Regions from separate parts of the Homo sapiens genome. Here regions 2 and 3 are each linked to region 1. The links come from fine-mapping of genetic effects on gene expression. A gene starts in region 1. Each other region holds a variant in brackets. All regions are shown on one strand. Distances are between the middles of the regions.

Region 1 (9,132 bases):
TCTCGATCTCCTGACCTCGTGATCCGCCCGCCTCGGCCTCCCAAAGTGCTGGGATTACAGGCGTGAGCCACTCTGCCCAGCCTACTCTTGTTAACCAACCACGATGCAAAGGAAGCTATTAACCAGACCTTAAATAGTAACTGCAAAGTCCTCAGAGCCAGAAGGCAGGTAAACCTCCAGATCTGGCCACATTCCTTTGAAAAAACTCTGAGTGGGGAAAGGGAATGAGCCTGTATAGACTGTTTCTTTTTAATTTTCTTTTTCTTTTCAAGATGGAGCCTCATTCTGTCGCCTAGGCTGGAGTGTAGTGGTGTTTTCTCGGCTTACTGCAACCTCCACCTCCTGGGTTCAAGTGATTCTTGTGCCTCAGCCTCCTGAGGAGCTGGGATTAAAGATGTGCCGCGACGCTCGGCTAATTTTTGTATTTTTAGTAGAGAAGAGGTTTCACCATATTGGCCAGGCTGGTCTCGAACTCCCAACCTCAGGTGATTTACCCACCTCGGCCTCCTAAAATGCTGGGATTATAGGCATGAGCCACTGTGCCCGGCCTCTTTTTTTTAATGGACAGATCCTGCCTCATGTTTGTTTGTATAAATAGAAAAGAATGGTACCAGCTCCATGCAGAAACAGATGGCAGCCCAGGGCTCACACCAGTCCTTCTGTCCTCCCATTGGTAGACAGAGGCCTCTCCTCCAGATCCTTTGTGGGTGTGCATGGGCACCCTTGGAAATTTGATCTGGAGCTGGAACTGGAACTGGAACTGGAGCTGGAACTGGAACTGGAACTGGAGCTGCAACTGAAGTCTGGGCTTTGGTTGGAGCCTTGGCCTTGGACTTTGGCCGGCAAAACCAGCCTTGGCCAGGTGGGTTCAAGCATGCTTCCTAAGCTTGGGGTGGATGATTCAGGCAAGTTGATTGAATTTTCAGCTGATGTCTTTTGGTATCTTGAGCTTGACCATGTAGGGGTGAAGGGCAAACTTCCCCTTTACCCTCTGAAGTTTCACTGAAAATCAACCGACAAGGCAGATTAAAAGGAAAAAAGGCATACAAATTTATTTGATCATAGTTTTACATGCCATGGGAGCCTTCAGAATGAAGATCCAAAGATACAGCAAAATTGTCCATTCTTATGCTTACATTCAACAGAGTATGGACAGCCATGTAGAAATGTGACTGGACAAAAAGTATATTGTTACCAGAGTGGGGTCCTCATCCAGTCCACAAGAGAGGGTTCTTGAACCTCACGCAAGAAAGAATTTGGGGCAAGTCCATAAAGTGAAATCAAATTTATTAGAGAAGTAAAGGAGGTAAAGAATGGCTACTCCATAGGCAGAGCTGCAGCATGGGCTGCTCAACTAATTATAGTTATTTCTTGATTATATGCTAAACAAGGGGTGGATTATTCATGAGTTTTCCGCGAAAGGGATGGGCAATTCCCAGAACTGAGGGTTCCTCCTCCTTTAGACCATATAGGGTAACTTCCTGATGTTTGTAAACTGTCCTGGTGCTGGTGGGAGTGTCTTTTAGCATGCTAATGAATTATAATTAGTGTATAATGAGCAGTGGGCACGACCAGAGCTCACTTTGGTCGCCATCTTGATTTTGATGGGTTTTGGCCGGCTCCTTTACTACATCCTATTTTACCAGCAAGGTCTTTGTGACCTGTATCTTGTGCTGACCCCCACCATCTCATCCTCGAAGAATGCCTTAACTTCCTGGGAATACAGCCCAGCAGGTCACAGCCTTATTTTACCCAGTCCCTATTCAAGATGGAGTCTCTCTGGTTCAAATGCCTCTGACACTATTAACCTGGTTTTGAAGATGAGGAAACTGAGGCTTGGAGGTCACCCAGCTACTTCTTGGTAGAGTTAGAATTTGCAACTTCCTGGCTTGAAAACTCAGGCTTTATCCTTTTCTGGTACCTTTCAATAGAGGCTACAAGTCCCCAGGTTATTTATTTATTTATCTATTGAGATAGAATTTTGCTCTTGTTGCCCAGGCTGGGGTGCAATGGCACCATCTAGGCTAACTGCAACCTCCGCCTCCTGGGTTCAAGTGATTCTCCTGCCTCAGCCTCCTGAGTAGCTGAAATTACAGGTGCCCACCACCCTGCCTGGCTAATTTTTGTATTTTTAGTAGAGACAGGGTTTCGCCATGTTGGCCAGGCTGGTCTTGAACTCCTAACCACAGGTGATCCACCCACCTTTGCCTCTGAAAATGCTGGGATGACAGGTGTGAGCCACCGTGCCTGGCCAAGTGCCCAGGTTATTAAGACTCTTTCTCCAGGTGGCAGACATCCACATTCTCAGAGTCCTCTCACATTGGCATGGAACTAGCAATGTAGGGGAGGGAAAAATGGCTTCCCTCTACCCTTCTAGGTTCTTTACTTGGATTGCAAATTAAATTGACATAACAGAGATTTTTTTTTTTTTTTTTGAGACGGTATCTTGCTCTGTCGCCCAGGCTGGAGTGCTGTGGCACAATCTCGGCTAACTGCAACTTCCGCCTCCTGGGTTCAAGCGATTCTCCTGCCTCAGCTTCTGAGTAACTGGGATTACAGGTGCGCACCACCTCGCCCGGCTACTTCTTTTGTATTTTTAGTAGAGATGGGGTTGCACCATGTTGGTCAGGCTGGTCTCAAACTCCTGACCTCGTGATCCGCCCACCTCGGCCTCCCAAAGTGCTGGGATTACAGGCATGAGCCACCACGCCTGGCCGACATAAGACAGATTAACAGAAGAAAAACCGTTTTAATTACCTGCATACGCAGCAGCACAGGAATCTCACAAAACATGAAGGGCCAGATGATTGAAGCTTATAGCATTCTGAGCTAGAAATAAATAAGGGCTTGGGGCTTCTGTGGGGACAGTGGGGAGGCACCACAGGTAGGATATAGGAGGGTTAGTGGAGGAAATGTATGGTAAATAATGTTGCCTTGTGGCTGCGCGCGGTGGCTCACACCTGTAATCCCAGCACTTTGGGAGGCCGAGGTGGGCGGATCACGAGGTCAGGAGTTCGAGACCAGCCTGACCAACATGGTGAAACCCCGTCTCTACTAAAAATACAAAAATTACCCGGGCGCGGTGGCGCGCGCCTGTAATCCCGGCTACTTCAGAGGCTGAGGCCGGAGAATCGCTTGAACCCGGGGGGCGGAGGTTGCAGTGAGCCGGGATCATGCCAATGCACTCCAGCCTGGGCGACTGAGCGAGACTCTGCCTCAAAAAAAAAAAAAAAAAAAAAAAAAAAAGTTGCCTTGTTATGTAAAGTCTCTCATGTAATAAAAGTTCTCTGAGCAGCTGCCTTCCTGACACAGATACTTTTACTATGTGGACTTCCTTTATAGATGTAAATTTGCTTTACAAAAGGACAGCTTTTCAGAGCTACTCCCGTGTCTGCAGTTTCTCAGAATAACCAGCTTGAAATGTGCCAAACAAGTGTATTTTGGGATAGCATATTTTGGTATTCTACAGTCATAATTTGGGGTGCTGTGGCCTGAGCCTCAGCAGCAAAAAGAGGACATGATTCAGGGTTCGGAGCGCTGGATTCTATTACCAGCTCTGCCCCCTAACCCAGTGGTCTCTTGTGAAAGGTCCTCGAGTTCCGAGTCGAGTCAATTTCCCTAAAAGGCAAAGAGGCATCGGAGTTCCAGCTGGCTTAAACATTTGTAGATTTCGCGCCTTCCCTTTTCGCCCCTCCTTCCTCTCCACCCGTCTCCCCACCCCGAGCTACTAGGGGGCCTGCCCATTTCCCCAGGCCAGGAGTAGGGCTGAAGTGAAGTGACCGCGGTCGTAGCCAACAGCGAAGCTCATTAGAAAGTCCTGGTGAGAGCCTCAGCTTCTGATGAGTCACAGATCGCCACGGAGCAGGTTGCTGCGCTTGACTGATTGGGTTTACCCTATTTTTGTTTTGAGTTAGAGCCAACTGTCCTCATTCCTTTTCGTGGCTCTGAGTAGGGCCTGCTCCATTATATCTCTTTCTCTAAACGCCTGCATCTGAGATGCTGGAAAATCCTGCGCAGCTCATAACCCAAGGCCTGGTTTCCATTCACCTTTCCTCTTCTACTCCTAAGCTGCCCAAGACACTCCTTTGCCAGAGCTCTGTCTGGAAACGAGTCCCTCTAAGGTCAAGCCTTGCGTCATGTGCCAGGGGATCAGACGAGTGGATTCCAGGCCCAGTTTTACTTCCTCAACTTTGCTGTGAGGCTTTGGGCAAGTTATTTAACCTCTCTGGGCTTCAGTTGCCTCACCGCTAAAATGGGTACGGTAATGCTTATTTGAAAGAGCAAAGGGATTGGCGCAAAAATCGCACTAACAGAAATATCTTCATTCCGGCAGGGCGCGGTGGCTCACGCCTGTAATCCCAGCACTTTGGGAGGCCGAGGCGGGCGGATCACCTGAGGTCAGGAGTTCGAGACCAGCCTGGCCAAGATGGTGAAACCCCGTCTCTACTAAAAATACAAAAAATTAGCCGGGCGTGGTGGCAGGCGCCTGTAATCCCAGCTACTCGGGAGGCAGAGGTTGCAGTGAGCCGAGATCGCGTCACTGCACTCCAGCCTGGGCGACAGAGTGAAGCTCCGTCTCAGAGAAAAAAAAGAAAAAAAAAAAAGAAATACCTTCATTCCTCTTGGGGAGGTGGCTGTGAGGACAGCAGATCTGAGTGGGAGAAAACCTAGAGACGGCCTCCCTGCCTTCTGTATGGAACAAGCAATTATTGGGCACCCTCTTTTTAGTGAGGAAGCAGGGACGGAAAATGAGTCCTTGGGCCAGCGCAGGAGGAGAGGCTGGAAAACATATCAATATTCAGGAAGGCACGGAAAGGGCTCTCAATGGATCTCTCACCAAGTGCCATCAGGGCAGAACAGTCAAGGGCCCAGGGATTCGAGGAAGCTTGGGAGGCGCGGAGAGCCCAAAAGTTGAAAGTTTTCTTGGCAGATGAGGGAAGGAAAGGGATTTCAGGAACAAGGATCTCGTGGGTGGGCTGTCCCAGTCGGCGCGCGGCAGAGCGCAGACCAGCACCCGGCGGTCTGGTCTGTGCAGGAAAGGCAGGAACCGCTTACTAAGGCTCCAACCTTTTAGAGGCAGCAACAAGCTCTTTCTCTGGATCCGAAGGCGGAGAGGCGCTGCGCTCTCATTTGGCGAGGGCCCGAGCGCGGCCAGACCGCGCACCAGACCCGGAGCGTGGGGCCCAAAGGCTGGCGGCCGACTCCGGAGCTCGGCGCCCCAACCGGGAAGTGATCGCAGCAGCCCACCCGCCTGACGCCAGCGGAAGTGCGAGCCCGGGTCGAGCCTGCTCCGCCGCCGGGCGCCCGGGAAGGGGCGGGCACGGGGCGGGGCTGGGGGCGGGCGAGGCGGGGCCGGCGGCGGGGCGGGGCTTGGCCGCAGTTGTTTTTACCCAGGCCTCGGCGCCTAGGCGCTTCGCCGAGGCTGATCTTCGTTCAAGTGTGAGCTGCGGCTGAGCCCAGCGCTCGAGGCGCGAGGCAGCCAGGAGGGCCCGTGCGGCGCGGGGAGCCAGCGAGCGCGCCTTCGGCATTGGCCGCCGCGATGTCAGCTCAGTGCTGTGCGGGCCAGGTGAGCGAGGCCGGGCGCAGCGCGGGGGTTGTCAGATCGGAGAACCGGGCCAGGAGTCCAGGCGTGGAGGACCTGCCTGGGTGCGCTCCCAGCTCCGCGGCCGAACGTAGGGCCCGGGTGGGTCGCTCGGGCTGGCCCCGCGGCGCTCAGCCGTCCGGGAAATCCTGTGCCCTGGGCGGGCGGGAAGGGGCAGGGGGAAGCCCGAGAGGCTACCCCGGGGTCTTCCCGTCCGGCCTCCGGGACTCCGCGTGGAGCGGGGCGTGCCGGGCTCGGGCGGAGGATCCCGACTGCTCCAGGGGCGTGTCGCCTCTTGCGCCGAGCACTGGTGAATAGCGCTGAGCTCCGTAGCCCTCTCCACTCTGCTTGTCGGATGAATCCAGGAAGAAAAGTGGGTTTAGGCACCGTCTCCTTTGCTATGCCCTGAATAAAACTCGGGTCAAACAACCCAGGCAGGTTGCGCTTGGCATCTCGTAGTCGAGCGTGGGCTCTGTACCTTTGAGAATGTCTCGAAGCCTGACTTCCAAACTACCGGGCGCAGGTCTGGGCGAAGGGAAAACTCAGCCCTGCTTCCTGAATTTCCCGACCCAACCCTGGCTCGGTACTAGCACGACTGCCTGGGTAGGGCTGGAACCTTCCTGCCTCTCTTTGCAAATAAACTTGTTCGAACCTGTTTTTTAACTCTCGCCTATTTAAACCTATGATGTCTTAAAACATTATGTCTCCTACCAGTTACTGCATCAGTGTAGAATTAGTACGTCTTAGCCCTGTAATGCTGGTTTCACTCCTTCCTGCAGAGTTAGAAAAAACGAAGTAGGTGAGTCTCTTGGATGTGGAGCTCTTTTCTCCCTTTACATGTGGATTATCAGCGTTTCGGTACAGAGTTTTAATGGAGTGTTTTCACGAACGAATCAGACTCTAGGGAGCATCCTGGTTCGGGGTGTTCTTGCTGACACTCAGCCTTTCCACAATCGAGGCCAGCTGTAAGTGATGGAGTGGTTAAACTGTGGGTTTCTGTAACCGGCGATTATACTGGCAGATAATCTGTCCTGTTTAGAGTGGCCACGTGGAGCTGTCTTGGTTTTTGAGGTCTAATACTGTGCTTGGCATACATTAAAGCTGGCCTTTTCAGAGTTGAGGAAATTGAGGCTTTTGACGACTGAGACGAAATGATTTTTTTTCCCTGTGTCAGGCAGAGAGAGAAAGAGAATGAGAATGGTCACCACCTTACCAGGTATTTGAGAACAAGGTGGACCAGGAAAGACTGTTTTCAGAAAGCTCTGCAAATCTTTTATTCCCGTTTTGAAATACTTTTTCTCCAATATGATGCGACACTTTTTATTACGTAGTAATGATACAGCTCTTTAGGGGCATCTGTCCTGGTCCCTTGAAGTCCCCTTGAGGCTCTTTCTGCCATTCCCAAGTTCCTAATTTAGAGCTCTGTAATTACCAGTATTCAAATGGGTTTTGTAAAAGAATTATTTTGCTGTTGATGTTTTAGCAGGTTTCTAAAGTCTCCCCTCTTAGGACTTTGGAAAGAACCAAATCAAAGTTAACCCCTGCTTTCCCAGGCCTGCTGGAGGCATCACTGTGGTGGGCCTCAGTGCTGTGTGATGGTGATCACACTGTGATTTCCTGTGGATGGGGCGGTAGGAAGTTAAAAGAAAAGCAAACAGGCTGGGCGCAGTGGCTCATGCCTGTAATCCCAGCACTTTGGGAGGCAGAGGCGGGCGGATCACCTGAGATCAGGAGTTGGAGACCAGCCTGACCAACGTGGAGAAACCTCATCTCTACTAAAAACACAAAATTGCCGGGTGTGATGACGCATGCCTGTAATCCCAGCTACACAGCTAAGGCAGGAGAATCGCTTGAACCCAGAGGCAGAGGTTGTGGTGAGCTGAGATCACGCCATTGCACTCAAGCCTGGGCAATGAGCAAAAAGAGCAAAACTCCATCTCAAAAGAAAGGAAAGCAAACAAAACCTCACAGCACCGTCAGAAGTTACCAATTCTTGTTTGTTTCTGTGGGCACCTGCCTTTTGCCAGGAGCCTGCTATATAGTCATAAGTCAGACAAGCATCTCTGCTCTCAATGGCCTATCTGGGCAGGGGAGATCATTCATAAACATGTAAACAATGAAACAATGAATATGGTACTGGTACTGTCAGAAGGCCGTGTGGTAAGCAGCCTTGAGGAGGGTTGCCGAGGGAGTCTGAGAAGATGCCTGTGGAGTTGAGACTGCTCAGTGAGGAGAGGCAAGGGAGTCTAGGGTGGCTGGGGTGTCTTAGATGAGGTCAGAGAGAAGAGCAGGACCAGAAATGGCCAGAACCTGTCAGCTGCCTTTGGACTTTGGATTTAATTCTGGTTGCAGTGAGAGGCTGTGGGAGGATTCTGAGCAGGGGCGAGCTGTGGTTTGATTTGCACTTAGAAGATAATTGGGATGTCGTGAAGACTGGACTGTAACGGGCTAGAGTGGAGGTGAGGAAAGCAGTTCGAGTTGGTCATGAAGCAGTTGGTGAGGAAAACCTAAGTGGATATTTGCCTCTTAGGGGCAAGCAGTGTTCTAGGCTTCGGCAGTGAACAAAAATCCTTTCCTGATGGAGCTCGAATCCTGGCAATCTGCTGTTGCTGTAGTCCCAGGAGGAGACAGCGTGGTACCTTAATTTAGGCTATGGCTGTAGGAGTGAGTACAGTGGGACATCATTGGCTTTGGGTATATTTCAGAGGTAGAACTGGATTTGAGCAAGGATTAGAAGTGGGATGTGGGAATGAGACAGGCTCGGTTTCTGGCCTGAGCCACTGGGTAGATGATGATCGCATTACTGAGGTGAAGTAGGAAATTGTTAGGAAGAGGACATTTGGTGAGGAAAACCCAAGTTTCTTGGCTTCGTTACATTAGAGATGCCTATTATAAATTTAATGGAAATGGCAAGTCACCAATTAGGTATTTAGGTCGGGAGAAGTTTGAGGTCGGAGAGAGACATTTTGGTGACTTTCTTTAACTGCGGACCATCCTGAACAATATGTAACCCATAAAAGAGCCTGGGCTTTGGACTCAGGCCTGGGTTTCAATTTGGAAATCTGGACAATGAGGACTGGTGTGACTGGATGAGTTACTTACCCTCTATGACCTCATTTTACCTCAACTATTGAATGGGTACTTCTTAGGGTTATTGGGAAAATTACATGTGATGATAAGTGTAAAGTCTGTAATATAGGATTTGGCAGAGTGTGAGGAACCCCCCAAATCTTATTAGTGGCCATTACCCATCTGCATCAGGATAATATCCAGATCAGCTTATTTTATTTTTGTATCTACTCTGATATTCACTTTGGTTTTGCTTAGGCTGTTGGCTAATGGATGCTAAGAAAGTAGAGATTACAGGGGAGTGGTCACTCAACACTTTATGGGTTCAAAGTTCTGTGCTAGGCCCCTAGAGACACGGTAATGAACACAGGGCTTCCTTGTTCTCCTTTAACTTAAGGGCTATGTGGAGGTGGGAGTGTTGGGGGAAGTTAGCTACAGAAAATGACAGTGCAGGCTGGGCATGGTGGCTCTTGCCTGTAATC
Region 2 (10,264 bases), 38 kb after region 1:
CCACCAAGCCTGGCTAATTTTTGTATTTTTTGTAGGGGTGGGGTTTTGCCACTTTGCCCAGGGTGGTCTTGAACTCCTGTGGTCTCAAACTCCTGGACTCAAGCCATCTGCTCGCCTCAGCCTCCCAAAGTGCTGGGATTACAGGGATAAGCCACTGTGCCCAGATTCATTTCTGACTTTTCTTTTTCTTTTTTCTTTTTTTTTTTTTTTTGAGACGGAGTTTTGTTCTTGTCGCCCAGGCTGGAGTGCAATGACAGGATCTCCACTCACTGCAACCTCTGCCTCCCAGGTTCAAGCGATTCTCCTGCCTCAGCCTCCCAAGTAGCTAGGATTACAGGCGCCCGCCACCACGCCCAGTTAATTTTTTTTTTTTGTATTTTTATCTGAGACGGGGTTTCACCATGTTGGCCAGGCTGGTCTTGAACTCATGACCTCAGGTGATCTGCCTGCCTCGGCCTCCCAAAGTGCTGGGATTATAGGCGTGAGCCACCGCGCCCGGCTTGACTTTTCTAACTTTCTCGTTGATGAGTAGATAGTTGTATCATCACAGATTAAATCTTGAGGTTTTCATCTATTCCTGGCTATGGTGAGAGCTACCCACCCTGCCAAGCTCAGGAATGCATTCTTTCAAATCATTCTGGATGCGTAGGGTACTAGGAATTTAGTCTGTATGATTGCATTTTATTTTAATTTAATTAGAACTTTGACCCTCGAACTTGCTCTCAGGGTGGGATATTCTTTAGAAAGCATGAATAGCCTATCCTTACTGTATACCATGAGAAAGTTAGTGATACTAACCAGTTATAATTTTATAAAAGAATATGATGATATATATAGTCAGCCCTCTGTATCCGTGGATTCTGTGTCTGGATTGAACAAACCATGGATCAAAAATATTTGGGGAAAAAAACAAAACAATAAAAATAATACAAATTAAAAAATATAGCACAACAAATTTACATGGCATTTACATTGTATCAGGTATTATGAGTAATCTAGAGATAATTTAAAGTATATAGGAGGATATGCATAGATTATATGCAAATTCCATTTTATATCAGGGACTTGAGCATATGAGAATTTTGATATTCACGCGAGGGGTCCTGGAACCAGTCCCTCGCAGATACTGAGGGATAGCTATATGCCTTATAAAATCCCAGGCATATTTGTTTATGAAAAGGCAAGCTAGGCTGGGCACAGCGGCTCATGCCTGTAATCCCAGCACCTGGGAAGGCTGATGCTGGTGGATTGCCTGAGTCCAGGAGTTCAAGACCAGCCTGGGCAACATAGTGAGACCTCATCTCTATAAAAAAATAAAAAAAATTAGCCAGGCATTCTGGCACAGTAGTTCCAGCCAGTTGGGAGGCCAAAATGGAAGGATCACATGAGCCCAGGAGGTCGAGGCTGCAGTAAGCTGTGACCGTACCACTGTACTCCAGCCTGGGCAACAGAGTGAGACTGTCTAAAAAACTGGCCGGTATGGTGGCCCACACCTGTAATCCCAGCACTTTGGGAGGCCGAGGCGGGTGGATCACCTGAGGCCAGGAGTTCGAGACCAGCCTGGACAGCATGGTGAAATCCCATCTCTACTAAAAATACAAAAAATTAGCCAGGTGTGGTGGCAGGCACCTGTAATCCCAGCCACTTGGGAGGCTGAGGCAGGAGAATTGCTTGAACCCAGGAGCCAGAGGTTGCAGTGAGCCGAGATCGCTCCATTGCACTCCAGCCTGGACAACAAGAGCGAAACTCCGTCTCAAACACACACACACACACACTCACACACTCACACACTCACCCACAAAAAACCCACCAAAACTTCTGGGTTGGATCTGGTGAGGTCACAATTTTGGATTTGGTTCCCACGTGGTCCAGTTTTGTTATTATGAAGTAAATCTCTGTTTCAGAGGCCACCATATCACATTTCTCGAGTCTCCTTGTAGACACCTAACTTGTCCGTGATGATGTGAGGTAATAACAGGAGATAATGATTCAGCAAAGCTTTGTCCCGCCACTGAGAAATTGCTTTGAAACAGTGGCCCATCCACAGTTGCAAAGTGGGGGTGATTCTTCTTCAGGGAGCATAGCGTAGCAGATTTTCCCCTGCGTCCTCTGTGTTTGTTCCTCAGTGTCTGGAAAGTGCTTACCCTAGAGAGTGAGCTTGGGACCATTTTTATTAAAGCTATTATTATTATTATTTGAGACAAAGTCTCACTTTGTCACCCAGGCTGGAGTGTGGTGGTGCGATCACACCTCACTGCAACCTCCACCTCCTGCGTTTAAGTGATTCTCCTTGCCTCGGCCTCTCAAGTAGCTGGGACTGCAGATGGGCACCACCACGCCTAGCTAATTAAGAAAATTTTTTTGTAGAGCTGATGTCTCCCCACAACCCAGGGTGGTCTTGAACTCCTGGGCTCAAGAGACCCTCCCACCTTGGCCTCCCTAAGTGCTGGGATTATAGGCGTGAACCACCGTGTCTGGCCATTAAAGGTATCCTCAAAACTCATTTTATAGTATTTATTTTCTTTTGATGTTCATTGATTTTTTTTTTTTTTGCTAAAGTTGTCTTGCTTTTTAATGTAGACCAATGGAGTGCATTTTACAGACAACAAAACATATCCTATATGGTGGGTAGCAAATTAAATAGGCTTTTTACTTTTTTTCTACTCTTTGATTCTTTACCTATTAAAATATTGCAGTTTTCTCTTCATTTAAAAAACTTATGAAATTCGTGCTTAATGTTAAACCTTGAAAACATAGACAAGATAAAGTAAACAAAGGCCATCTAACATCCCATAATCCTGGTTAATATTTTTGTGTATTCATCTCTCCTAAGGATGTGTCCATTAGCATTTTTTCCAGGTTGAATTACAGATACCTTTTTCAGAGACTGCATGCTAGTCTCTCATGATTCCCTTATCTGTTATATTGAAGTCGTGTGTGATCGCACGGGAAACTTGCTTTTGTTATTTGCCATCACCAAAGGACCCTTCTGAATGAAGAGCGAGGGCAGCTGGCTGTTGGGTGTGTGGCGTGTTGTCATCACTTGAACACAGGATTATTAAAGGTGCGCAGGATTGTTAAATGTGCCTGCTGTCGGCTGATGTCAGATGATCCCCTGGGAAGGTTTATTTATTTATTTATTTATTTATTTTTACCCTGCAGGCTCCAGTTCTGCTTCAGCAGATCTGGGATGGAGGCTGAGACTCCCCGTGATGCCCAGGCAGCTGTTCATGAGCCCCCTTTGGAGTACCATTGAGCCAAGGTCCTCTAGCATGGCCGAGTGCTCTCTGCTCTTGCAGTGAGGCAGTCTCTGCTTTTGTTCTGCTCAGGGCTGACCTGTTTTGGGGGGCTTCCTCCACTCTTGGGGGGCTTCCTCCACTTCCTGGCTCTTTTCCCTCATCCACGCTGCTCAAGACCCCATTTCTTCCCTGCTGTCTCATGCATACATCCACGCTCCTCCCAAACCTCTGTTCCTGTCACTCCAGCAGGCTCCTCCATCTCCCCAGGCCACCCTCCTACCACCACCACTCCCACCACCACATCAGAGTCCTTTTTTTTCCAGTTACTACTTGATTGCCCCCCTCCCCACTTCACCCCTCAGTTTCCTGTCTGGAGCCCTCAGATTCCTTTCTCTCCATGGAGGGCAGTGACTCAGAGGCGCCTACCTCAGAGGCGGCATCAATCAGGTGTGTCCTGGCCCCAAACTAGCTCTCCACTTGGGGCTCCCTGAGTGTTGAGGCCTTGGATTTCCTTGCAGGGGAAGGAAGGAGGGGTGAGAAAGATCCAGAATCTTCAAAGGAGCCTTCTTTGCCCAGTCCAACATCCACTCCACCCAGCTGACTGGAGAAATAAATGCTAGGTTTGACTGAACAAATAACAGTAATTAAGATCTGTTTCCTGAACAGCCTACCCCTTTGGCCTGTTTACTTTGCAGCCCAATAACAATTCATTCAGTCAGCCTGGCATTGAGGTCCATTGTGTATGATTTTGTTGCCGGAGTGCTAGTCTTCACAATCTAGGGCTGATAGAAGACTTCTGCCTTGTAATTTTAAAAAGTAGAGGGAACACCGCTGCCAATATGAGCAAGTTACTTGTTTCTATCTCTCTCTCTCTTTTTTTTTTTTATTTTTATTTATTGAGACAGAGTCTTGCTCTGTCGCCCAGGCTGGAGTATGGTGGCGCTGTCTGGGCTCACTGCAACCTCCGCCTCTGAGTTAAAGCGATTCTCCTGCCTTGCTCTCCTGAGTAGCTGGGATTACAGGCATGTGCCACCATACCCAGCTAGTTTTTTGTATTTTTAGTAGAGGCGGGGTTTGGCCATGTTGGCCAGGCTGGTCTTGAACTCCTGACCTCAGGTGATCCACCTGCCTCGGCCTCCAAAGTGCTGGGATTACAGGCGTGAGCCACCGCGCCTGGCCTGTGACTTGCTTCTATCTCTGTACTCCCGTACTTGGTTGTGTGTAGCCAATACCCTGAATGAAAAAAAACAAAAAGGTAAAGGTTGGCGGGTGGTGATGTAAGGTTATTTTCATTTCTGTTGATGATAGAAGAAATAAGTATAAGCACCTTCATTTGGCCCTGGTTCCTTTTGCAAATGTATTTTAAGAACATAAACAGGAGTTTCTCAAGCTGGGGGCGAAGGGGTAATTGCATGACAGTTCTCTGCCAGTTGGTGCCATCGAGGCAGCTGGTGCTTGAATGCAGGCATCCTCACAAAGGCTGTCTAGGGCTTTGTGCCAGCTTGCCTTGGAATGAGGACCTGCTCCAGAAGTGGGTGGAGGGGTGCTGATAAAACCCACTGGGCATCTGGCAGTGCTTGCTTGAAAAGGCAATGAACAGCGGCTATTTGTTTGGGGGAAAGGCACACACCTATTCGTTCCTTCCACTTCAAGCTAGAAGTGGAAGAAGAAGATGAATTTCAAGGGTGAAAAGAGGGAAGAGCTGGAAAGAAGGTTTCCTGAAGTTTGAGGGATGATGAAGGCTAAAGTTAACTGTGAGAAAAAGTGTTTTCTCAGCTGTAGGAAAACAGTGCAGCTGTTACTCCAAGAAAAAAGCTGTTAAACCAGGACTTTCATGGCACTACCAGGCATCCAGAACATGGGGTGGGCTAGAGGAGTGAGGGCGACCCTGTAGGAGGGACATGCGTCTTGAGAGGTTAGTGTGGGCCCATGCCTCCCTTTCCCCTTCCCCTGATCTTGCCTCTGAGCACTGGTACTATCCAGGTACAGCTGTGGTTTTCCAAACCAGAGGCCTGTTGTCTGACATTTTGTTTTCTAATTTATGTATTTATGTGAAAAATATTAGAAAGACTTGAAATAATCATCTTTTATTGGACACTGAATCCTAAAGAACAGGATTTTATGGGATCTAGGGTAGGTGAAGCGTGCAAGTTTTTCCTTGTTCAGAGCCCTTGTTGCTAGACTAACCACCTTGAAAGAGAAACATATTGTTACTGGGCAGTGGAATGGGTCAGAGGTGTTCTTTTGAGCAGTGAGCCCTTTCTGTGATGTGGTTTGTGGGGAGAGCGGCCAGTGGTTGAATCTGCACGTGGGGTGATTTAGTCGGGGCTGTCAGCTTCTCAGAAGCGCAGGAAGGGAGGTAGTCGGGGGTGGGCATTACCATAGCACAGCCTGTAGCTGTTCAAGAGCACCAGACTTTTTTTTTTTTTTTTGAGACAGAGTCTTGCTCTGTCACCAGGCTGGAGTGCAATGGCGTGATCTCGGCTCACTGCAACCTCCGACTCCCTGGTTCAAGTGATTCTCCTGCCTCAGCCTCCCAAGTAGCTGGGATTACAGGCACGTGCCACCATGGAGTTTCACTCTTGTTGCCCAGGCTGGAGTGCAATAATGCAATCTTGGCTCACTGCAACCTCTGCCTCCCGGGTTCAAGTGATTCTCCTACCTCAGCCTCTCATGTAGCTGGGATTACGGGCATGTGCCATCATGCCTGGCTAATTTTGTATTTTTAGTAGAGATGGGGTTTCTTCATATTGGTCAGGCTCGTCTAGAACTTCCGACCTCAGGTGATCCGCCCACCTTGGCCTCCCAAACTGCTGGGATTACAGGCGTGAGCCACTGCGCCCAGCCAGGAACACCGGTTTTGTGGCCACCCCAGGGTTAATGCGACACATGCTGGCTTTTC[G/A]TTTTAACTGTCATGAGGGAAACCTTTCAAAATGTATTAGACTCTGAGACACTTGAAACTGCCTTCTTCCTAGGATCAGCAGAGCATTTGTTTGTTTGTTTGTTTTTGAGATGGAGCAGAGCGTTTTTTAAAGCTACTAACGATGACTTCCTTTAGTTGTCTCAAGTGTCTGTTAGTATATTGCACAGTAGATACAGAAGTGTGGAACCCAGAGGATGAGTTACTAGCTCCTTCCTTTTCCAGACTGCTGAGTTGTTTGCACTGATGTGTTTTTTGATGCTCCACTGATGGTTGTCACTAGATTTGTCCTTGAGCCAAATCACCTAACCTTTCTGGGCCTCGGTTTTCACATCAGGAAAATAGGAGGACTGGACTAGATCAGGGACTTCCAGTGCAGGTTTTGGGATGTAGCCCTGTTTAGGTTGAATTTTCTGGATGCTGAGTTTGATTAAAAAATCCACTAAAATGTGAGTTTCCTGAGAGCAGGGACTATACTACCAACTCCTAGAACCAGTACCCAGTCACTAGTAAGCATTTAATAAATACTGTATGAATATAGAACTGCATTTTTGGTATTATACTGCATCCATATGTGTTACATATTGTGCATAGAATTTCGTTTGGTGGGGAGAAGAGCTCACTCGCCGCTAAACTCTTGAAGCTTCTGGTGCACTTGAGTTCTAAGGTCCTCTGCACTCCAGCTCTCTGAGAGCAGTGAAATGAGCTCCTTTCTGTTTCCATCCCCGAGCATACGGGCATCTAGCTGGCACTGGGGCCTGTCACCAGCCTAGAAAGCACTCCGTGGCTTGGCAGGGTTTGGGGATTGGGCTGGCACATAGCACCTCTTGGAAAGGGCTTGGCAGGTTTCTCCCTTGCAGCATAATCTCCATGACACAATGAGGCAAATTTTGGGTTTAGTGTTTCACTGGCTGCCGGTTGATAAGCTACTATTTATAAAGTAGAACGAGCAGGGTTTCTGCCCACCTTCTTTTTTGCTGAGACTATTTAAAATTAACTATTTTATAAATTAAAAATAAAACTTTTAAATAAACTTATTTTAATTAAAAATTTGTAAAATAAAAATATCAAAATAAAAAAATTAAAATTAAAAATTAAGAATAAAAATGTAAACATCAAACTTACTTTATAAATGAAACGAGTTTTTACTGTATTTTATTTTATTTGTTTTTTTAGAGACAGAGTCTCACTCTGTTGCCCAGGCTGAAGTGCAGTGATGCAATCTCAGCTCAATGTAACCTCAATCTTCTGGGCTCAATCCATCCTCCTACCTCAGCCTTCCAAGTAGCCGGGACTACAGGCTTGTGTCACCATGCCTGGCTAATTTTTGTATTTTTTGTAGAGACAGTGTCTCACTATGTTACCCAGGCTGGTCTCAAACTCCTGGACTCAAGCGATCTACCCACCTCGGCCTCCCAAAGTGCTGGGATTACAGGCAGGAGCCACTGTGCCCAGCCCTAAAACTAATTAAAAAAAAATATTTAAAACCCAATGGGTACTTTTGTTTTCTCCCAGTCTCCTACACTTCTCCGTTTTGAGTTTCAAGGTTTCATTTTCTTATACCTTTTTCTTAATAGAACTTACTTAACTCACCTTTTCAGCCCTGTTCTGCCACAGGTATTTGTTGCCTCAGTGGGTGCCAGTGAATGTTCCCACAGCTCTTGTTTTTTCCTCAGTGGAAATGAAGGTGTAAAGACGGCTTTAGCTTTCCAACAAGTTTTCTCACACACATAAGTTGCCAGCATGCTCTCCTGTGTTCAGACTGAAGGTGGTGAACCCCACAGTCTGACTGTGGAGATGGCTCTTGCTTTTCACCCCTAACTCAGTGGCTCTTAACTGGGGAGCCATTGTCTGGAGACATTTCTGATCATCACGCCTTGCAGGGGAGAGGGGGAGTTGTGACTGGCATCTAGCGGGTAGAGGCAGGGAGGGGCGCTGCTGAACATCAGCATCCAGTGTACAGGTCAGCCCCCGACAAGAAAGAATTTTCTGGCCCCCAGTCAATAGTGTCGAGTGATAGAAACGCTGCTCTGAAGGACCTGCCCCTGAGGAACGTTTGTTTTCTGTTGAGCTGTCAGAAGGGATGTTGTTTACCCTCAACCTCAAACCTTATAGATCTCACCAACCTGCTAAAATGTATCAAGTGTGATATGATATTTTTAATTTTAAGGTAGAGAGAGGGTCCTGTGATGGAATGATTCAAATAATCCCACTGCTGTCTGAGAACAGAGGACTTGATAAACATTCTTCTGGTGCTGAAAGTAGCCCTAACCTCCTGAGAAAGAGACTCCAAAAAAGGGGAACATCTTTGTCCCAGACTCCACTGTAACCCCAAAGCTGACTGATGGCTTTGTATGCGTTCATAGCCTCTTCTTGCCCATTTCAGACTTGGTTCTGGTGGCTGGAGATACTAAGTTGACCCTTGACTGTTTGTTTCATGGAAATGTTCAACGTGGAAAATAACACCGCTCTAGTATGTTGAAACTTGTTTGAGAAACCACTTGCCAGAAACTCATCTCTCACAGTCCCCACAATACTGCTGCCACAGTTATGGGCATGATGATGAAAGCCTTGGCGCTTTAGAGGATTCTCTGAACTCAAAATAAAATTTAAGAAACCCAGATAAAGGAACTATAAGAGCATATTTCTAGTCTAGGCAGATATATAGCTTCTGTTTAACTTCTTGAACTTTTAGGTAGCCGTATTAATCTGTTCTTGCATTACTATAAAGAAATACCTGAGACTAGGTAATTTATAAAGAAAAGACCTTTAAATGGCTCACCATTCTGCAAGCTGTACAGGAAGCATAGCAGGTTCTGCTTTTGGGGAGGCCTCAGGAAGCTTCCAATCATGGCGGAAGACAAGGGAGGAGCAGGTGTCTTACATGGCAGGAGCAGGAGCAAGAGAGAGAGAGAGTGGGAGATATCCCACACTTCAGATGACCAGATCTCATGAGAACACACTCCCTGTTGTGAGAACAGTACCAAGTGGATGGTGGTAAACCATTCATCAGAAATCTTCCCCCATGATGCAGTCATCTGCCACCAGGCCCCATCTCCAACATTAGGGATTACAATTCAACATGAGCTTTGGGTGGGGACACAAATCCTAGCCATATCGATAGCTGTTTAATTTTTTTATTTTATTTTTAATTGCTTCAAATTCTACCAAGTATTGGTTTATTTACATCAGTTAAACTCTATAAAGTTTTACAAGGCTTAAGGAATTTTTTTTTTCTTGCGGGGTAAAAAATGCATACATAAAATTTACCATCTTAACTACTGTTTTGAGATGGAGTTTCAGTCTCGTTGCCCAGGCTGGAGTGCAATGGCATGATCTTGGCTCACTGCAACCTCTGCCTCCTGGGTTTAAGCAATTCTCCTGCCTCAGCCTCCCAAGTAGCTGGGATTACAGGCACATGCCACCACACCTGGCTAATTTTTGTATTTTTAGTAGAGACAGAGTTTCACCATGTTGGTCAGTCTGGTCTCCAACTCATAGCCTCAAGTGATCCGCCTGCCTTGGCCTCCCAAAGTGCTGGGATTACAGGCATGAGCCACTGCTCCTGACCCAACTATTTTCAAGTGTATAGTACAGGAGGTGTTTTTTTGTTCGTTTTTTTTTTGTTTTTTTAATGCCTCAATTATGGTGATAGTTCACTCTGGCTGTTTTCTTCCAATCACATTGAAGTAGGTTTGATTTACTCATTGTCTGATGCATTTAACAAATATTTGAGGGCTTACCACCTATGAGGTGGAACAGGAATGTTTTGTTTTCTTCCAAAATAGAAACCTGTAATGTTTTTCTAATTATAAGATGTATGCTTGTTGCAGAGAGTTCAGAAAATACAGAAGAGCATAGTCACTCATAATTCTACAACTCTGTTTACTACTGTTGATGTACTGATATATCCTTCTAGTTTGTTTTTTGTTGTTGTTAGTGCTGATCTATGTCTTGTTATATTTTTACCCAAAATGCTATCATACTCTACACTATTAATATTAACTATTTTCAGTTTATACAGTGTGGACGTCTTTCCATGGCCATAAATTTTTCTGTATAACCTATATAATCATTTCAGTGGGTGTATTATATTCTACAACAT
Region 3 (10,264 bases), 76 kb after region 1:
ACCTTGCGACTCCCATTCCTGCCCACCAGAGAACGAACCCCCTTTGACTGTAATTTTCCTTTACCTGCCCAAATCTTATAAAACGGCCCCACCCTTATCTCCCTTTGCTGACTCTCTTTTCGGACTCAGCCCGCCTGCACCCAGGTGATTAAAAGCTTTTATTGCTCACACAAGCCTGTTTGGTGGTCCCTTCACACGGACGCGCATGAAATATAACATAATAGTGCTTTAGAATTAAAGAAGTTAACTTAATGACTACTATGGGTTAGGAACCGTGGTAAGCACTTCACAGGTGTTATCTGATGTAATTCTCAGGCAACTCCATGAAATGGGTGTCGGTATTGTTTCATTTTACAGATGGCACAACTGAGGCTCAGGGTGTGTATGTGTGTAGCTAGCTCAAGTTAGCAGTGGAGTTAGGAATGGAAGTCTTATGAGCTGTTTATTCTTACTTGATAGTTTGTGGCTTTGAGTTTGGTTGCTTTGAGGGTTGGAGGGAAACGCCTTGTTCTCAGGGGTCTGTATAGAAACAACATACAGCCTGCATGCGGTGGCTCACGCATGTAATCCCTGCACTTTGGGAGGCCGAGGCAGGCAGATCACCTGAGGTTAGGAGTTTGAAACCAGCCTGGCCAACATGACAAAACCCCATCTACTAAAAATACAAAAATTAGCTGGGCATAGTGGTGTATGCCTGTAATCCCAGCTACTTGGGAGGCTGAGACAGGAGAATCGCTTGAACCTGGGAGGCAGAGGTTGCAGTGAACCGAGATTGCGCCACTGCACTCCAGCCTGGGCAACAGAGCAAGACTGCATCAAAAAAAAGAAACAACATACAGTGTGTGAGCCTGGCTTAAGTGCCCTGTCCTTGGGTGCCCAGAGCCAGACTTAAGAGGTAACACCCTTAGCAGGCACATTCCTTTCACCCTGTGGTGTGGAATTTGTATGTGATGTATTTTTTCTTTTTCCAAAAATGGGGTGGACTTTGGAACAGCAAATATTTAATCGGAGCAAATTCCCCTTGCCAGAATCCTGCTAGCTTGTTCACCTTGGAGGTTCTTTGCCCAAAAATACTTACCACATACTGAAAACTAAATGTGCTAAGTCACCCACAGAGTATAAAGGAGGTCTTGATTAGGATTTGGAGCAGGGGGGTTGTTTACCTGTTTTTGATGAATATACAGTGTCAATGTACTCACCCTGTGATGAGCCTTAAAGGGCCCTGGCCGCATTCCAGATTCTGGAGTAAGCAAACAAGGGAGGGGATTTGTTGGGGATGGTGGCTCAGCCTGCTGCTGTTAGCATTCTCCTTGAAATGGATTTTGGAGGAAGAAAAAAGAGGTAGGGAGGCAGAGAAGGTCTAAAGGTGAAAGATGGGCTGGTATAGATGAAAGAGGTGCTAATGTGCATGTGTTATGGGGAAGATGTGGTTCAGGAATTAGAGTTGCTGATGGAGTAGAAGAGAGAAGGTGGGGAAGAAAATAATTTAGGGAATGTTTTAGAGCAATAAATCCTGTGTAAATGAAACAGCCTAATGAATGAAGTGGTATGGCTTCTCCATGAATGTAGCTTTTAGAGATTCAAAGCAATATTACCTCCTCGTTACTGGCACTACTCATACAGGTGTAACTTTTGTTTTGGGTTAGACTCTCTGAAACATTCATTTTTGTGTGTGTCCCCTACCATATTTCAGCACCTGAAAATTTTAACCATGCTGTTTCATCACTCATGTTTAAACACAGCTAAAAATTGAGGTTCCTCCAGAAAGCACCTGTGTGACTGACTTCTCATTACCCGCCTGCGGGTGCTTCCTTTCATGCGCGTCGGTGTGAAGAGACCACCAAACAGGCTTTGTGTGAGCAACATGGCTGTTTATTTCACCTGGGTGCAGGCGGGCTGAGTCCGAAAAGAGAGTCAGCGAAGGGAGATAGGGGTGGGGCCGTTTTATAGGATTTAGGAAGGTAATGGAAAATTACAGTCAAAGGGGGTTGTTCTCTGGTGGGCAGGGGCGGGGGTCACAAGGTGCTCAGTGGGGGAGCTTCTGAGCCAGGAGAAGGAAATTCACAGGGTTAATCACTCAGTTAAGGTGGGGCAGGAACAAATCACAATGGTGGAATGTCATCAGTTAAGGCAGAGCAGGGCCTTTTCACTTCTTTTGTGATTCTTCAGTTACTTCAGGCCATCTGGGCGTATACGTGCAAGTCACAGGGGATACGTGCAAGTCACAGGGGATGAGATGGCTTGGCTTAGGCTCAGAGGCCTGACACTTCCTGTATCCAGCCCCAATTGCTGTTCTAAAGCAATTTCCAGACCAGACTGTTCTCGCTGGGATACCCCTTGGTGATGCCCTAAGGTGTTAAAGAGCAAACTCCTGCTTTGTTCTTCACTTCTGCTGTCTGTCCTCTGCCCTCCACCCTCCCTCCACCCCAAACGGCAATGCCATAAAAAAAGAAGAAAACAAAACAGCTTTGTCTCATTCTTGTGCTTCATTCTTGTCATCTGTGCTCTCCTGCCAATTGTGAGCTCTACCTGCAGAATCTCTGGTTTCTCTGCCTGGGGTTACCTTCTTCACCTGTTCCCAGTGGCCTTCAAACTTGTCCCCTTGCCTCAAGTCTGTACCCTTTCACCACGTCTTCCACTTTGTAGCCAAAGGTGTTCTAGCTTCAGTAGTGCTTTTCCCCTTGCTTACAGGATGGGGGCCTGACTGCTAAGTCTGGCATGCACCTGGCCCTTCCCAGCAAGACCTTGCCTTTGTAGAGAAGGGAAAAATGGCTTCCTTCCACTCTTCTAGGTTCTTTCTCTGGAAGCAAATTAAATTGACATAAGACCAATTACAGGAGAAAAAGCAATTTTAAAAAGGGTCAGATAGGCTGGGCATGGTGGTTCACGCCTGTAATCCCAGAACTTTGGGAGGCTGAAGTGGGCGGATCATTTGAGGCCAGGAGTTCAAGACCAGCCTGGCCAACATGGTGAAACCCCATCTCTACTAAAAATACAAAAATTAGCCAGGCGTGGTGGCAGGCGCCTGTAATCCCAGCTACTCTGGAGGCTGAGGCAGGAGAATCACTTGAACCTGGGAGGCAGAGGTTGCAGTGAGGCGAGATTGCGCCACTGCACTCCAGCCTGGGCAACAGAGGTCTCAATTAAAAAAAAGCGGAGGGGGGGGGGGCGGTCAGATGATAGAAGCTTATGGCATGTTGAGCTACAGAGAGGAATAGGGGCTTGGGGCCTCTGGGAGTTGCTGGCAACACGTAATGGGAGAGTGAGGGGAAGAAATGTATGGTGAATAAACGTCTGATACACTTTACTAATGTAGATTTCCTCTACAGATGTAAATTTTTTGTATAAAACAGCAGCTTTGCAGAGCTACTCCTGTGTCTTCAGCTTCTCAGAATAACGAGCTTGAAATACGCAAAGAAGAATGTTTTAGGGTGGCATATCTTGGTTTTTGTGAGTGACGCCAAGGTCAGAGGTAACCAGGTCCACGAACATTTGTGTCTTTCCATAATGTTGGACTTAACTGATGCTATTTCAGTTACAAAAGCCACCAGCTATGTGGAGTTCCCAGGGAGCCAATTCTTCTTAGTACTTCTCATCCACTCATTAGATCTGCAGGCACACAGGTTCCAGCCTCTGCACCAGCCAGTCAGTATTGCAAACCGTACACAATCGTATACTCTGTCAATATATAAATGTTACTGATTAAACATTGTGCAACAAACAAAATAACATTTAACATTAAGAGAAAGGGAATAGGAAAAGGGTTAATGAAGTAGTCCAGGGAGAGCAATAAAGAAAAAAAGAATTTCCTGGTCTGGGCTGGTTAATCTGGTTGGTTGTGCAAGAAACAGTCTTTGATGTGGGCAGAGCCTTCGGGGCAGATGCCAGGTGCTTGTCACGAGTTAGAACCGTACCTACCCTTTTTATGGCCACAGAGTCCTCCAGTGAGGACTGATAGTTGAAGACTGTGCTTGTTTATCTACTTATCTGGTTGGATGCAGTCTTTATCAAGCAAAACATCTTGTCTCTGTTGTGACAAAATGGTGTAAAAAAAAAGTCATAAAAAATGTACAGTTTTAGGAATTTGCTGAAAACAAAATGTTGGCTATTTCCTCATGAAGTCTTTCACATGTCTTCATGAAAATGGAGCTGGCCAGGTACAGTGGCTGACACCTGTAATCCCAGCACTTTGGGAGGCTGAGGCAGGTGGATTGCTTGAGTCTAGGAGTTCGAGACCAGTTTGGTCAACATGGTGAAACACCAACTGTACACACACACACACACACACACACACACAAAATTAGCTGAGCTTGGTGGTGCATGCCTGTAGTCCTAGCTACTCAGGAAGCTGAGGTAGGAGGATGGCTTGAGCCCTGGAGGCGACGGTTGCAGTGAGCCAAGATTGCGCCACTGCACTCCAGCCTGGGTACAGAGTGAGACCCTGTCTCAAAAAGGAGTGGGGAGAAAATGGAACTCTTTGTTTGTTTGTGTAAAGGAAAATAAACCCTCTCAGGACTGCCCAAACTCTTTATGCCAAATGGAAACTTAAGACTGGAGAGACAGTCACGTGACACTGCTGCTGTCCCCTCGCACCTTGCCCCCCTGCCCAGTAGATAGCTGCGACTTCCCAACCTTGTGTCAAAGCGCTATGCATTAGCCACACCCCTGGAGAAGGCAGAAGGCCTCGTGCATCCCGGATGACTGCCCTCAAATTGCTCATAAGTAAATTCTCTGCTGGTCCCTAAACCTTTCAAGATGTGTATCTTCCCATAAAAAAGGACATGTCAGCTGTAACTTTAGGTCTGCAATCTAAGTCTAGCTCCCTGTCCACGGAATTGCAGTCTGTTACATTTCACACTGACAATGCCCATTACAAGCTTATCTTCCCAGGTGCAGAACAAAGACAGGACAGCAGTCATTTCTCTGCCTACCCTGAGACTACATAATTAACTCTTCCTTTACTCCCTTTTTGAATGTTTATCATATCTCTTTTATAGCGGAGTTTACTGGGCACTAGTTAAAATCTCAGGAGAATGTTGCATTTGCCTCACCACCTGCCCCCTTTTCCTGCATGCCTTCTCCCCTTTAAAGAAATGGGTAAATACCGAGCAACCTCTTTGGGAGCGCCAGCCACAGAGGATTCTGTGATTTGTGTGTTTCTCAGCAGCCCCTCAAGCTCTGGCTTAATTATTCCCCATTGAGACTCTTGCCTCAGTCTCTCATTTGGGTTGACATTTGTTTATGGAAATCGTGATAGCCACAGATATTATTGTTTCTTCAGTATCTTTTTCTGGAGAAGAAACTGTAAATTATCTTCTTTATCACACTTTCCTTTTACCTTCAGTTTTGTGCTATTTTTTCTCTGTGATACTTTATTTTTCTTATGAATAATAGTTATAATGTGATTTATTTTCTGTTCAGAAGAGTGTTCAACT[T/C]TGATGTTGATAAGAAGCAAGTTTTTATGACTGACCAAATCCTTATTTTATGACATTACTAGGAATGTGCTGCTTGTTCTCATTGTGTAAGATTTTAATTATTCTGATAATGAAACTGATTATTTCATGTGGAAGTCTTCTAATTTGGCTAGAATAAGCTATTGTCAACATTTATCAGAAGATTAAGACCCACTAATAAAGAGCTCCAGTGGATCAAGAAAATACCCAATTAACAGCCAATTCAGAGAAAAAAAACAGATGGCCATAAACTTGAGAAAAGATGCTGAATCTCACTAGTAATAAGGAAGATGTACCTTAAAACAGGATATTGGGTTTTTGCCTTTAAATTAGATGTCCAAGTTGGGAAATGTGCAATCTCAGATATTACTGGTAGGATGTAAATTGGTACAGCCTTTGAAAGTATGATTTAACTCATCTTGAAGTTTAAAAATGTAGATACTGGTTGAATATTCCTAATCCAAACATCTGAAATGTGAAATACTCTAAAATTTGAAACTTTTAAAGTGCCAACATGATACTCAAAGGCAATGCTCACTGAAGCATTCTGGATTTTTTTGGATTAGGGAACCTTAGCCAGTAATATAGTGTAAATATTCCAAATTCTGAAAGACTTCTGGTCCCAAGCATTTTGGATAAGGGACATTCAACCTGACTACTTGACCTACTAATTCCATTTCTAGCTCAGGTGTCTGTCCTACATAAATAATGGCACAGGTGCAGTGAGGCATGAACAGCAGTATTTATTGAATTAGTGTTTGTGATAATAAAAAACAAGTACAAAAAATAAAATTTAAAAACCCTCCCCAACAAAAAATTAAGATCAGTGTGAGAATGGTTATTGATTTTGATCAAGCCTTTTTACAGTATAAGATAGTGATGAAAAAGAATGTGATGGGATTTTGCGTATTAATAGAGAAAGACTCTTCATGGCTTATTGTTTATTTTTGTTTTCTTTTTTTGGGACAGAGTCTCACTCTGTTGCCCAGGCTAGAGTGCAGTGTCACGATCTCGGCTCGCTGCAACCTCTGCCTCCCAGGTTCAAGCAGTTCTCCTGCCTCAGCCTCCCTAGTAGCTGGGATTACAGGCACGAGCCACCACACCGGGCTCATTATTGTATTTTTAGTAGAGACAGGGTTTCACATGTTGGCCAGGCTGGTCTCAAACTCCCGACCTCAGGTGATCCACCCACCTCGGCCTCCCAAAGTGCTGGGATTACAGGCATGAGCCACCGTGTCTGGCCCAGCTTATTGTTAATTGGGAAAAAATATTGCAGAACATTACATACAATCTTTTATTTTAAAAAGCTGTTTTAATATATTTATTATATGCATAGTATGATATGAGTGTATGTATGTGTGTTGTGTATGTATATGTATATGTGAGTGTGTTGTATATATGTATACACACACATTTATGTATGTGAATTAATACAAATACTCTACCCACCAATTGTTTACTCTTCTGAGGGAGAGGAGTGACATTTTGGGTGGATAGTAAAAGAAGTCTCTGATTTTTTATTTGTATATATGTATACATATCAACAAAAATATATCCATGTATTGAAATGGGATTTTAGGCCAGGTGCAGTGGTTCATACCTATGATGATCCCAGCACTTTGGGATGCGAAGACAGGTGGATTGCTTGAGCTCAGGAGTTCAAGACCAGTCTGGGCAACATGACAAAACCCCATCTCTACAAAAAAAAAAAAAAAAAAAAAAATACAAAAATTAGCTGGGCATGGTGGTGCGTGCCTGTAGTCCCAGCTAATTGGGAGGCTGAGGCAGGAAGATTACCTGAGCCTGGAAGATCGAGGCTGCAGTGAGTTGTGATTGTGCCACTAAACTCTAGGCCGGGCAACAGAGCCAGAGAGACCTTGTCTTGGGGTCGGGGGTGGGGTGGGGGTGGGGGTGGGGGCGGTTAAAAAAAAGGTAATTTTTGTAAAATCTGATGTTGGATTTCAGAAGTCATTTGGGGCAAGTAAAGGCTGAGTGTTACTTTATGATCACTGTATCTTTAAAAAAGATTCAGAGAAAATTAGAAAAATATCTCTTTAGAAGATAGATCCTCAGTCTGTTTCTTTATGCACACGATCCATTTCCACAGTGGATGTTGTGGTTGGCTGCATGAACACTCCGTGACAGTCCACCTCTCACTCAGTTGTAACAGATGACTTTTCTAAACTTTCTCCTCAGATTCCTTTTTTTGAAGATATGTGTAAAGGCATTAAAGCTGGTGACACCTGTGAGAAGCTGGTGGGATATTCTGCCGTGTATAGAGTCTGTTTTGGAATGGCTTGTTTCTTCTTTATCTTCTGTCTACTGACCTTGAAAATCAACAACAGCAAAAGTTGTAGAGCTCATATTCACAATGGGTAAGTATTTTAGTCTTCTTGGGGATTGCTTTCTCCTTTCTTATGTTCAGGACAGTAGTCCAGGATCCCATCTGCCCACCAGACACTGTGACTGCCCTTCTTCTAGTTGAAATTGTTGATTTAGGGGAAGGTGGAATTGATACTTACCCACATGGTTGCCTCAAAGGTAGAATCTTATTTGTAACACCTGGTACCATGATGCGAAATTTACTCAAGACAAAGAGTTTATTTCTTGTTCCAAGACCTTCCCCCAGGTCATTTCCACCCCTGCAATGAAATGGTGTTTTGCACAACTGGAGGCTGCACTGAGTCTGCCTAATTATGGGAAAAAGCATTCTTCAAGTCACCTAGTTACTTCCCCTTGATTAGGAGAGAACATTGGCCAATGGCAGAATCATGGATTGACATGCTGTACCTTCTACGAGGTCCTTTGTCCTTCTTGAATGTCATTTAAATACATTTCCTCTTTTTTTTCCCCCCACTTCTAGCTTTTGGTTCTTTAAACTTCTGCTGTTGGGGGCCATGTGCTCAGGAGCTTTCTTCATTCCAGATCAGGACACCTTTCTGAACGGTACTAATGGGGTATTTTGGGTATCTGTTTATTTTGTTTTTACCCATTTTGTCAAATTGCTCAGAAGCGCAGTCCAAAGTACCTCTGATAGTTAGAATTACTGATTTTCTTTTGGCTTCAAAAGAAATTCCTGACTTACCTGCCCATACTTTTTCCATCATTGCCTATCTACCTCCCCTCTTCTCACCACCGCATCCCACTTCCAGGTAGGGTGTAAGAGGACTCTGATACTCTGCTGGCCTGGGAGACCTTGTTCTTTCCAAGCACTGCACAGAAAACCCAGCAACAGGGAGCGCAGGGCTGTCAGCAGCTAAATGTCTGCTGCAGCGATAGTGGGACAGGAAAAGCATCTTTCAGTCTGTTATTAAACTTACCGTATGTGAAGCTCTGTAGCATTGAATTATATTCTTTATTGTTAGAACCTGCTTTAATTCATTAATATGAAGCCTTTAATCATAGCTGAAACAGGGCGCCCTTTTTCATATGAGCTGAGGGAAAAACCTGAATTTCAGTGGTTCAGAGCATTTTGTTCAACCCAAATGGATTCACTTTCCTAAGTAAGGTATTAAAAACATTTAGGCCAGGCGTGGTAGCTCACACCTGTAATCCTAGCACTTTGGGAGGCTGAGGTGGGTGGATCACTTGAGGCCAGGAGTTCGTCTGAGACCAGCCTGGCCAACATGGCGAAACCTCATCTCTACTAAAAAATATAAAAATTAGCCAGGCATGGTGGTGTGTGCCTGTAATCCCAGCTACTCAGGAGGCTGAGACATGAGAATTGCTTGAACCTGGGAGGCAGAGGTTGCAGTGAGCCGAGATTGCACCACTGTACTCCAGCCTGGGCGACAGAGTGAGACTTTGTCTCAAAAACAAAACTAAACTAAACATTTAGATTGTGTCAGTTTATAAGGAACAGCCATAATCCTTCATATAGTTATGTATCAGGGCCTAGCTAGTTGTTTAAGGTCATACTTGTTTTTCATGTACTCCCTAAGTCTTGCTGTTACCTAAAATACTGTTAAAAGTTTTAAAATTCTCTACAGAGATCCTTTTATGTATTAGAATGTATATTTGGAGGGAGAAGAGACCTAGAAACCCTCTGGTCCAGCTCAGTCTTTTTTTTGTTTTTCGAGACAGAGTCAGAGTCTCGCTCTGTTGCCCAGGTTAGAGTGCAGTGGCACGATCTCGCCTCACTGCAGCCTCTGCCTCACGGGTTCAAGCAATTCTTCTGCCTCAGCCTCCCGAGTAGCTGGGACTATAGGCACGCACCACCACGCCTGGCTAATTTTTGTATTTTTAGTAGAGACGGGGTTTCACCATATTGGCCAGTCTGGTCTCAAACTCCTGACCTTGTGATCCGCCCCCTCTTGGCCTCCCAAAGTGCTGGGATTTACAGGTGTGAGCCACTGCGGCCGGCCAAGCTCAGTCCTTTTTTTTTTTTTTTTTTTTTTGAGACCAAGTCTCGCTCTGTCACCCAGGCTGGAGTGCAGTGGTGCAATCTCAGCTCACTGTGACCTCCACCTCACAGGTTCAAGTGATTCTCCTGCCTCAGCCTCCTGAGTAGATGGGATTACAGGCACCCGCCACTATGCCTGGAGTTTTTTTTTAAGTAGAGTCAGGGTTTCACCATGTAGGCCAGGCTGGTTTCCGACTCCTGACCTCAAGTGATCCCCCTGCCTCAGCCTCCCAAAGTGCTAGGATTGCAGGCATGAGCCACTGTGCCCAGCCCCAGCTCAGTGATTTTTATAGACAAATTGGAACCCATGTGATGTGACTTATTCAAGGTTATAGCGTCTTTGTGGCAGAGCCAGAAGTCGAACCGAGTCCTTGTCCCCTGTCTGAACCTTGTTTCTTTACTGGTCATT

The links.
Region 2: its variant is fine-mapped to the expression of SERINC5 in whole blood (INTERVAL, PIP above 0.99).
Region 3: its variant is fine-mapped to the expression of SERINC5 in adrenal gland (GTEx, PIP above 0.99).

The regions. Positions count from the first base shown.
Region 1 is chr5:80,252,330-80,261,461 of GRCh38, reverse strand. It overlaps SERINC5 (serine incorporator 5), which reads left to right and starts at 5,414. Exons shown (of 12, transcript NM_001174072.3): 1 at 5,414-5,566. The coding sequence starts at 5,540. RefSeq lists silencers at 718-1,012, 5,102-5,541, 5,652-5,931 and enhancers at 2,449-3,380, 3,381-4,314, 4,315-5,248.
Region 2 is chr5:80,214,081-80,224,344 of GRCh38, reverse strand. All of the region lies in intron 1 of SERINC5 (serine incorporator 5), which reads left to right. Among named protein-coding and RNA genes, the nearest start is that of SERINC5, 37 kb to the left of the region's middle. The variant G/A (reference allele first, on the strand shown) is at 6,142.
Region 3 is chr5:80,175,450-80,185,713 of GRCh38, reverse strand. It overlaps SERINC5 (serine incorporator 5), which reads left to right. Exons shown (of 12, transcript NM_001174072.3): 3 at 7,650-7,828; 4 at 8,317-8,399. Among named protein-coding and RNA genes, the nearest start is that of SERINC5, 75 kb to the left of the region's middle. RefSeq lists enhancers at 1-116, 1,761-2,581 and silencers at 1,093-1,387, 1,653-1,947. The variant T/C (reference allele first, on the strand shown) is at 5,436.